Homo sapiens: one gene and its partner. The protein of the gene in region 1 purifies or fractionates together with the protein of each later gene. This does not show direct contact. Each region holds a gene or a part of one and is shown on either strand. Other genes may lie near its edges.

Region 1 (3,915 bases):
TTTGCAGACCATATATGTCGCCTTGTAAGCTGTGGGAATGTTCTTGGTGTTATACTCTGCATGGGAGAGGAAGTCACTGAAAGATTTTGAGTTGAGAAAAATAAAAGTCTGATTTATATTCTAAAATGGTCCTTTTGACTGCCTTTCAGAGAATAACTCTGAGTGGGGGGCTGGCAAATTTGCAATAATTTAGATGAGAGATGAGGGTAACTTAGATTCACAGTGGAATAGTGAAGGTGGTGAGAATCATGGACTTTGGGGTCAAACTTGGATTCTGTCACTTACTTAAGAGTGTGATTAAATAAACTGCTGAAAGTTTCTGGGCCTCAGTTTCTTCCCCTGTTGAATGAGTATACCCTGAATTTATGCCTTGGCAATGCGATGCAGACTCAGTCCTTCCCCAGAAGGAAGTTATTCCTACTCATAGCACATCACAAATATGCTCAAAGCTCAGAGGATGGTGCCAAACATTTCTTTCCTCTTTCTCTTGGACTTCTTTCAGTCACAGCAGAGTCTCTTTCCCAGTTCCTCCCTTCAGTCCTATCCTACATCTATACACATCTCTCTCTTTGTTTACTTCCATCTTTTTTTCTTACCTACATCTTGCTAAGGGCTGGTCATTCTTCATGACGTTAGCTCTAGAAGACAAAAACATCTACCTCTGTAATACAGCTCACTTCACAAAGCATAATTTTCTGCATATTGTCGTTCAAAGACTACTTTCCCTCCAGCGAAAAGGATGGACAGGGACACAGGGCATGAAGGTGCCAGAGAAACATACTCTATCACTTTATCCATGAATAGTAATAGCCTTCTTGTAAGGCTGTTTTGATAATTAAATGAGATAGCATTTGAGAAGTGGTTAGCACGGTGCCATGGGCATGGTAACCATTAAACAAATGATGGCTATGACTATTACTATTCTTAAACATGTGTTGAGCAGGAGAATTGGTGCTCCTGGGCCTGCTTTACTATAGCAGTCTTCCCATCCAGGAGAGACAGTATGTGTGTGAGTCCCTGCCCAGAGACTAAATGTTGACTTGTATTCTGAAACTTGCTGTGGAATCTAGTAGTGGCATTCAACCCTAGTGTTCACTTTTCTCCTCCTCTCAACATGTGCTCTTGGTCCAGCATAAGCATCTCCCCTGCTGGCTTTTCTTGGTAGCTCCACCAGCCTGTAAAGTAGGCATACAATTTTGTGTTCCAACCAACTTTGTCCATGGTTAGCATTTTCTTATTCAGTTGTTTTGCTCCTTTGAGTTCCTTTAGTTTGGCTGTATGCTAAAGACATTTAGGATAGAGTTGGCTACTGGTAGATGGCTGGTATTACAAACATTTTTGTTGCTACTCAACAGACTGTGTAGGAGAGCTGGCCCCCCTCCAAAGGAAAAGTAAAGAAAAACTATTCAATTTACTATGCAGATGCTTCAAAGTGATTTAGAACAACTACTCCACAGCCCGACTTTCCAAAGAGAAAGTCATCTTTACGACAAGTAAGTGACTGACTCATTTATCCAGAAGATAAAGTGATTCGTTCTTGTGTGGATGGGGAATTCAGTTTCCTTATTTACAAGGAACAAGGTCAGAGCTGAAGATGTTTTCTTCCAAATACAAAGCCAATTTGTAGAGGGTGTATTTCACTGAAAGCCAATGTGTAAATTACATAAGCGGGGGAAAAAAGAATTATAGGGTCTGCAATTGCTTTCCAGGGTACAAAAGGACATTTGATTTTTTTTTCTCCCAGCGTAATTCAGAAGAAAGTGACACCCCAGGGAGCCAAGATTGGGTTTTCTTGTAGGGCAAGAAAGACATTTTTCTAGAGGAGGAAAAGGTAACACGAGGGTCTGGGAGAGGTAAGGATGATTTCTGCCATTGAACAATGCTGTATATGAAGGTAGGCAGTTCTCTTTGATCATTAAGTACCTTTCTGAACACATATATATCAATATAAAAGAGTGGAAGTAGCTTGAGAATGTTTCTGCTGAAGTGGCTTACAGATGATGTTTGGATGAGAAGAGAGGCAGGAAGACTTACCTTGAATCTCTTTTTTAAGAGATTGTGTATTAATCCATGCTTTTGGGGGTTGGATGGTGAGATGAGGTGTCTAAATCTCTCTTCAGTAGTCACCACAGTAGAAATAACTTTTTTGTCTAATTGTTCCTCCATGAAGGGAGAATAAGAGATGCCAGAGACTCATCAAGGTGAGCTTACTGAACATCTTCTGTTTTCTGGGCTGGCAAGGTCAAAAGGAGGCTGTGGTTTCTCCCTTTGGGGTCCACATCAGTCTGCTGTCTCATGTTTCCTTTGTCTTATGTTTTCATGAGGAAAATGCTGCTAAAATAAAACTCCCACTAATCTCTGTCCCTAACCTTCTCACTTCACTTAACAGATTGATGAGTTGGGAGGAGGAATTGACTTAGCTTGCTCAACCTTGGGTCTAGAGGATCCTTGAATTCTTTGTTCATTTATGTGGCAGGCTTCCAGTAATAAACTCTGTCTGCCAGGGAGAGGCCTGCAATTTTAGGGTATAAATTCAGTTTGGGGGTAGAATGTTAGAAGCTGTGTATGGCCCCCTAACTAAACATATGTAATCTATTTTATCAGTAGTAAAGATGATATTCTGATCTCTGATTGTCATCTTCATTTCATTTTTTAATAGGTCCTACACTAAAAAGGGAAAATTACTTATTGGGCTTCTAACACTCTTCGTGCTGTGACACCAAGGGTCTTAAAGATGAGGACAGGGCAGCCCTAGCTACAACTTTTCGTTTATCCTTTATTTATCCCCCACAATCTGTTCCTTACCTGTTTCAGTCCACCCAACTCCCAGTGACTTGACCTTCTAATTCAATCTGCTGGTATTTAATCTGTCTTCATCTCTTGATCTTCATGACCCCCTTGATAATCTCACTTTGAATGCTTTCTTCATTTGGTATCTTTCACTCTGACATGTCTGGTGTTTTTTTGACTTTGGAGTCATGCAGACTTGAGTTTAAATCCTGACTCTACCATTTCCTAGCTAAAAGACCCAGAGGTTAAATTTTCTCAGCCTTTGGTCTTAAATCTCTGAAATGGGGATGAATATAGGACCAACCTCATAGGATTGTTCAACGGCTGAGCAAGTTAAAGTATATGAAGATTTAACACAGTCCCTTGCACATAGTAAGTCCTCGAAAAATGGTAGCTATTATTTTCCCTTCTTCCTCTCTCGTGCCTATTAGGATTTCTGAAGCTGTAGGTAATGATCCTCTATCTTTTCCATTTATACCCATTTAGACTGTCACTGAACTTCATGGCTTCTGCCAGCACATACTTTGATGACACATAATAACTCCATCTTAGCTTTCTAATGGGGAGCATCTATTGTGTACATTTTTTGCTGACATGAATGGCTGGGCGCGGTGGCTTACACCTGTAATCCCAGCACTTTCAGATGCCTAGGCGGGCGGATTACTGGAGGTCATAAATTCAACACCAGCCTTACCAACATGGTGAAACCTCGTCTCTGCTAAAAATGCAAAAATTAGTCAGGAGTTGTGGCATGATTTGTAATCCCAGCTACTTGGGAGGTGAGGCAGGAGAATCGCTTGAACCCAGGAGGTGGAGGTTGCAGTGAGCTGAGATTGCACCATTGCACTCCAGCCTGGGCTAAAAACGTAAAACTCCATTAAAAAAAAAAAAGATGAACTATCCTCCTCCTCATTATCTGTCCATCCCAGATTAGTATGTTCCTTATTTCTGTCAATCAGTGGCAACTCTTGTTTGTCCTCTATCTCTGGCTTCCAAGTTGTATTCTTTCTTCCTCCTATCTGATTAGTATTAAGCCCTATACTTGTTTCTTCTCCCAGCTTCAGCCACCCCTCCTTCCCAGCACTAGCCCTGACACCAGCCTGGGAGCCGGTTGGTGCACTTCCC
Region 2 (3,915 bases), on another chromosome or scaffold:
CAGTTTTGTGTGTAGACGCTGGCAAATGAGTAAAGGGAACTGTTGCCCTGGTTGGGGGAAGGATAGTGTCGCCCCCCCTGCTAATGAGGGAGTTGGAAACAGCAGTTTCCAAAGGCTGTGAGTCACCCTGTGATCTGAGTCACACGTGAGGCTTAGCATCGTCAGAGGGGTGGGGGCGGGGAGGCCTGGGGTCTCCGATGGCAGACAGGACTCCAGACACCCATTCCCTGACTCAGTCTGGCTGGCCAGGACAGCTGGCGGAAGACCCAGGCCTGTTCCCGGTCCTGGGCCACTGCCCCAGCTGCCCTCAGCCTGGGCACCATGCCTGAGGCGTGGCGTAGGAGACCACGATGCTCAGGTGACCTCACCCGTTACACTGACCTTCGCCAGCTCCTGTGTGTGGGTCGCTCAGTCCATGGTGCCACCTCGCTCAGCAGGGCCTCTCAGGGGTCCTCAGTCTGGCCCAAGGACCAGGGCCTCAGCCTAGCCCCAAGAGTGGGCCACAACCTTCAGCTTCCTGCTGGGAAAACCCAGGAGGTGAGGACGGAATCACAGAATTCTAGAATGTCAGAGCCAGAAGAGATCATCTAGTCCAAACCTTTCATTTTACAGATGGGGGGACGCAGGCCCACAGAACAGGCATGACCTGCTGAAGGTTACCCAGGGAGTCATTTAGGGATTGCAAGATCATCAGGAACAGGGCTGGGGCAGAAGAGAAGGCATCAAGTCTTGGCCCTGGGTTTCTTTCAGAAACAAGGAGACCAGTGCTGGTCCAGTGGCTGTGATGGGAAAAGATTATTACAAGATTCTTGGGATCCCATCGGGGGCCAACGAGGATGAGATCAAGAAAGCCTACCGGAAGATGGCCTTGAAGTACCACCCAGACAAGAATAAAGAACCCAACGCTGAGGAGAAGTTTAAGGAGATTGCAGAGGCCTATGATGTGCTAAGTGACCCCAAGAAACGGGGCCTGTATGACCAGTATGGGGAGGAAGGTAAGAGGGCAGCACTCCAGCCCAATCCCGGACCCCTCCGCTTGGTAGGGGTCCCAGGTGCACCAGTTTGTGTAGCGGGGAACTGGAGGCTGTGGAGGGGGTGAGGGCAGCAAGGGTTTCCAGCACTGTCACCCAGAGAAGAGAGAAGCCCACCCACTACCCAGCTCAGCTCACCCTAGTTCTCCCCGCCTCTCTCTGCCCCCTCCCTCCTCGGGTTCAGGCCTTAGAGAGGTCTGAAGCAAGAGCCAGAGGCCTTCCCCGCCCTTCTTTCCTTCCCAGCCTTATTAGTCCTGCCTGAAGTCTCCGCTGCTTCATTGGCTGATGAGGAAGGTTGGGGAGAGGGAGTGTGTGGCTCTCTGAGGACAGAGCATTTACATTCATCAGCATAAAAGTCTGGCCCTTAAGCAGCCTGGGAATTAACTACCAGAGCTCTGAGCAGAAATGGTTTTCCCCTTCTCTCCCCCGGCCCTGCCTGCTTCTGGCCAGCAGAACAGAGGTGGAGCTTTGCCTCCCAGAGGAAGTGGCAGGGATCCAAGGGTGGACGGGGAACTGCTGCTGGCATCTTCCCCCTTCCCTGGGGTAGCTGGTGGCCATGGGGTGGGAGGCAGGAAAGGCCCAAATAAAGCCTCTGAGAGGGAGGCCCCTCCCAGCACATCCCACGGCCATGATGTAGCTGCTAATTCTGGGCCTGCCCCTCAGGGCTGCCTGCCACCCGCCAGCCACAGGCACCTGTCAGGCTATATTAAGAGACATTGTCACGCTGAGGACTCTCCTTCCTGGGAAGAACTGTCCTTCCTCCCCAACAGAATCCACCTTTCTTTCACATTCTCCTCCTCTTCACCCTCCCCTTTCTATCCTCAAAACTAAATGGGCTAATCATATGTAGATAAGAAGGTTATTTTCTTCCCCTCCTCCTGGCCTTGTGTTCCATGCCCCTCTGTGAACCCTCATCCTCCCAACTCCCTTTTCCTATTCTCCATGCTGCCGGTTCCTTCCATTCTTCCTGCCTACCTCCTAGACGTGCCAACTCCCAGATTCACCAGATACCGGCTGGAACCCCCAGTATTCTTTCAGCTAAGACATTTTTCTCTCTGGCATGGAGGGATGGGAGGGATAGGAGTGGAAAAGAGGGAAGCAGTGCAGACACCATGCCACCATGTGACCTGTCTTGGAATTGCACCCATTCCTCCATTCAGCCTCACCTTTGTTTAGAAAGAAGGCAGGAGCTGGGAGAGCTCCCTTGAGATACTTCACCCCTTCTGCCTAAGTGAAGGGGTCCAGACACCAGGTTCTGATGCAGAACCCCATCCCAGGAAGGCCCCTGAGGATGCGGCATGGCCTTAAGGGGACCTCCATGGCCTGGGGAGGGAGAAGCAGCTTAGAAATGTTGGTTATATTTCTGTCCACCCTGCCCAATCCCCAGCAGCCATTTATTATAGAGCAGTTATACACACAGACTCTGTGTGCAGCTCCAGCTAGGGACAAGTTGCTCCCAGCTTGAAAAGGGGGTGGTAGTGGAAGAATAGAAATCCCTATAGAGAGAATTACCCCTTCCCATCATCATCAGTCCAGCCTCCCTCCCTCTCTCACTGAGCTCTGCCAGGCTGCTTGAACTCGCTTGATAATCAGCCCCTCGATAGAAGGAAAGGAGAGATCCTAGGTCTTGGGGGAGGGGTGAAGAGGCAGCTGCCACAAGTCCCTGAACCGTCTGCCACTTGGCCTCTCTAGTGAAACTCAAATCTGCCCTTGTGGTCCCAGGAAATAAGAGGCTAATTTAGGCTCAGATCTCCATGATCAGTTGAAATTCTAGATAAATGGCCTCAAAGAGAAGGGTCTCTTTCCTAGCCTGGACCCCACCCATAGTCTCTGTATTCCGGAGCAGTTCTCAGTGTGAACCGTCTCCCCACATCCCCCACTACTGCCAGCACCCCCTCCTGTGCATGAAGGCTGCCTCCAGGAATCTGAGCCCCTTAGACAGGACCTGACAGAGAGAGCAGCTAAGGTCACCACTGCCATGTGCCAGCCCATTCATGCATTTTGGTTGCTCAACATTAGGTGTGGGGTATGGCGTTTGCTGTTGTATAACTCCAGGGAGCTCCATTCCCATTGTAGTCTATGTCTGTACAATGTGTGAATGACACTCCCTAAAGTTGTGTAACACCGAGCAGAGTGTGGGAACAAAGCATTTAAAAACTTTTTCTAGAAAAATAGCTCTTCATCTCCAAGCTAATGAGCTTTCCCACTTTTTAAGGCTTCCTGATTTCCCGTTTGAGCAGGGGCCAGGGAAAGAGGAAACACTGCTAGAAGCAGAGTGAAAGTGGTCTTCCTCCCGGGTTGGATCCCTAGCCTATTTGCGACTGTTCACTTACCAGCCCCCTCTGTGGTCACATCCTGTCTGATGGCCCCTTGTCCTATATGTCTTTGGAGATAAGCAAAGATTTGGGAACCAAGTATCACTTGTAATGTGACACCAGGCTAGTCATTCAAGGCTTTTTGAGACATCTTTGGACCATGAGTATGTGGAAAAGATTACAGGACTGGAAGTCACATCCTCTAAGTCCTCTAGTCCTGGCTTTTCCACCTATTGGGTAAGCAAGCCTCTTTGAATCTCAAGTTGTGCATCGTTATTAAATATATAATTAGGAATGGAAGATAATCTTGCCAGAAGCCTTTCTTACTCTATTAGCCTGGCCCTCTCTGTGGGATTTAAAGGTTGCTTCTTTCTTTAAGCCTGTGAACTGGGAGCTAGAGGGCAGGGGGAAGACACTGGGATTGGGGCCAGAATAAGCCACACTGCCCCTAACTTCTCCTCCCCTCTAGGCCTGAAGACCGGCGGTGGCACATCAGGTGGCTCCAGTGGCTCCTTTCACTACACCTTTCATGGGGACCCCCATGCCACCTTTGCCTCCTTCTTTGGTGG

What was found.
Region 2: the proteins of ASB4 (region 1) and DNAJB5 purify together in Homo sapiens (affinity purification with mass spectrometry; 4 studies listed by BioGRID and IntAct, with this or other methods). This does not show direct contact.

Annotation. Positions count from the first base shown.
Region 1 is NC_000007.14:95,530,673-95,534,587, forward strand, and holds part of ASB4 (ankyrin repeat and SOCS box protein 4), read left to right. Parts: intron 1-3,915.
Region 2 is NC_000009.12:34,992,450-34,996,364, forward strand, and holds part of DNAJB5 (dnaJ homolog subfamily B member 5), read left to right. Parts: intron 1-750; coding exon 751-995; intron 996-3,815; coding exon 3,816-3,915.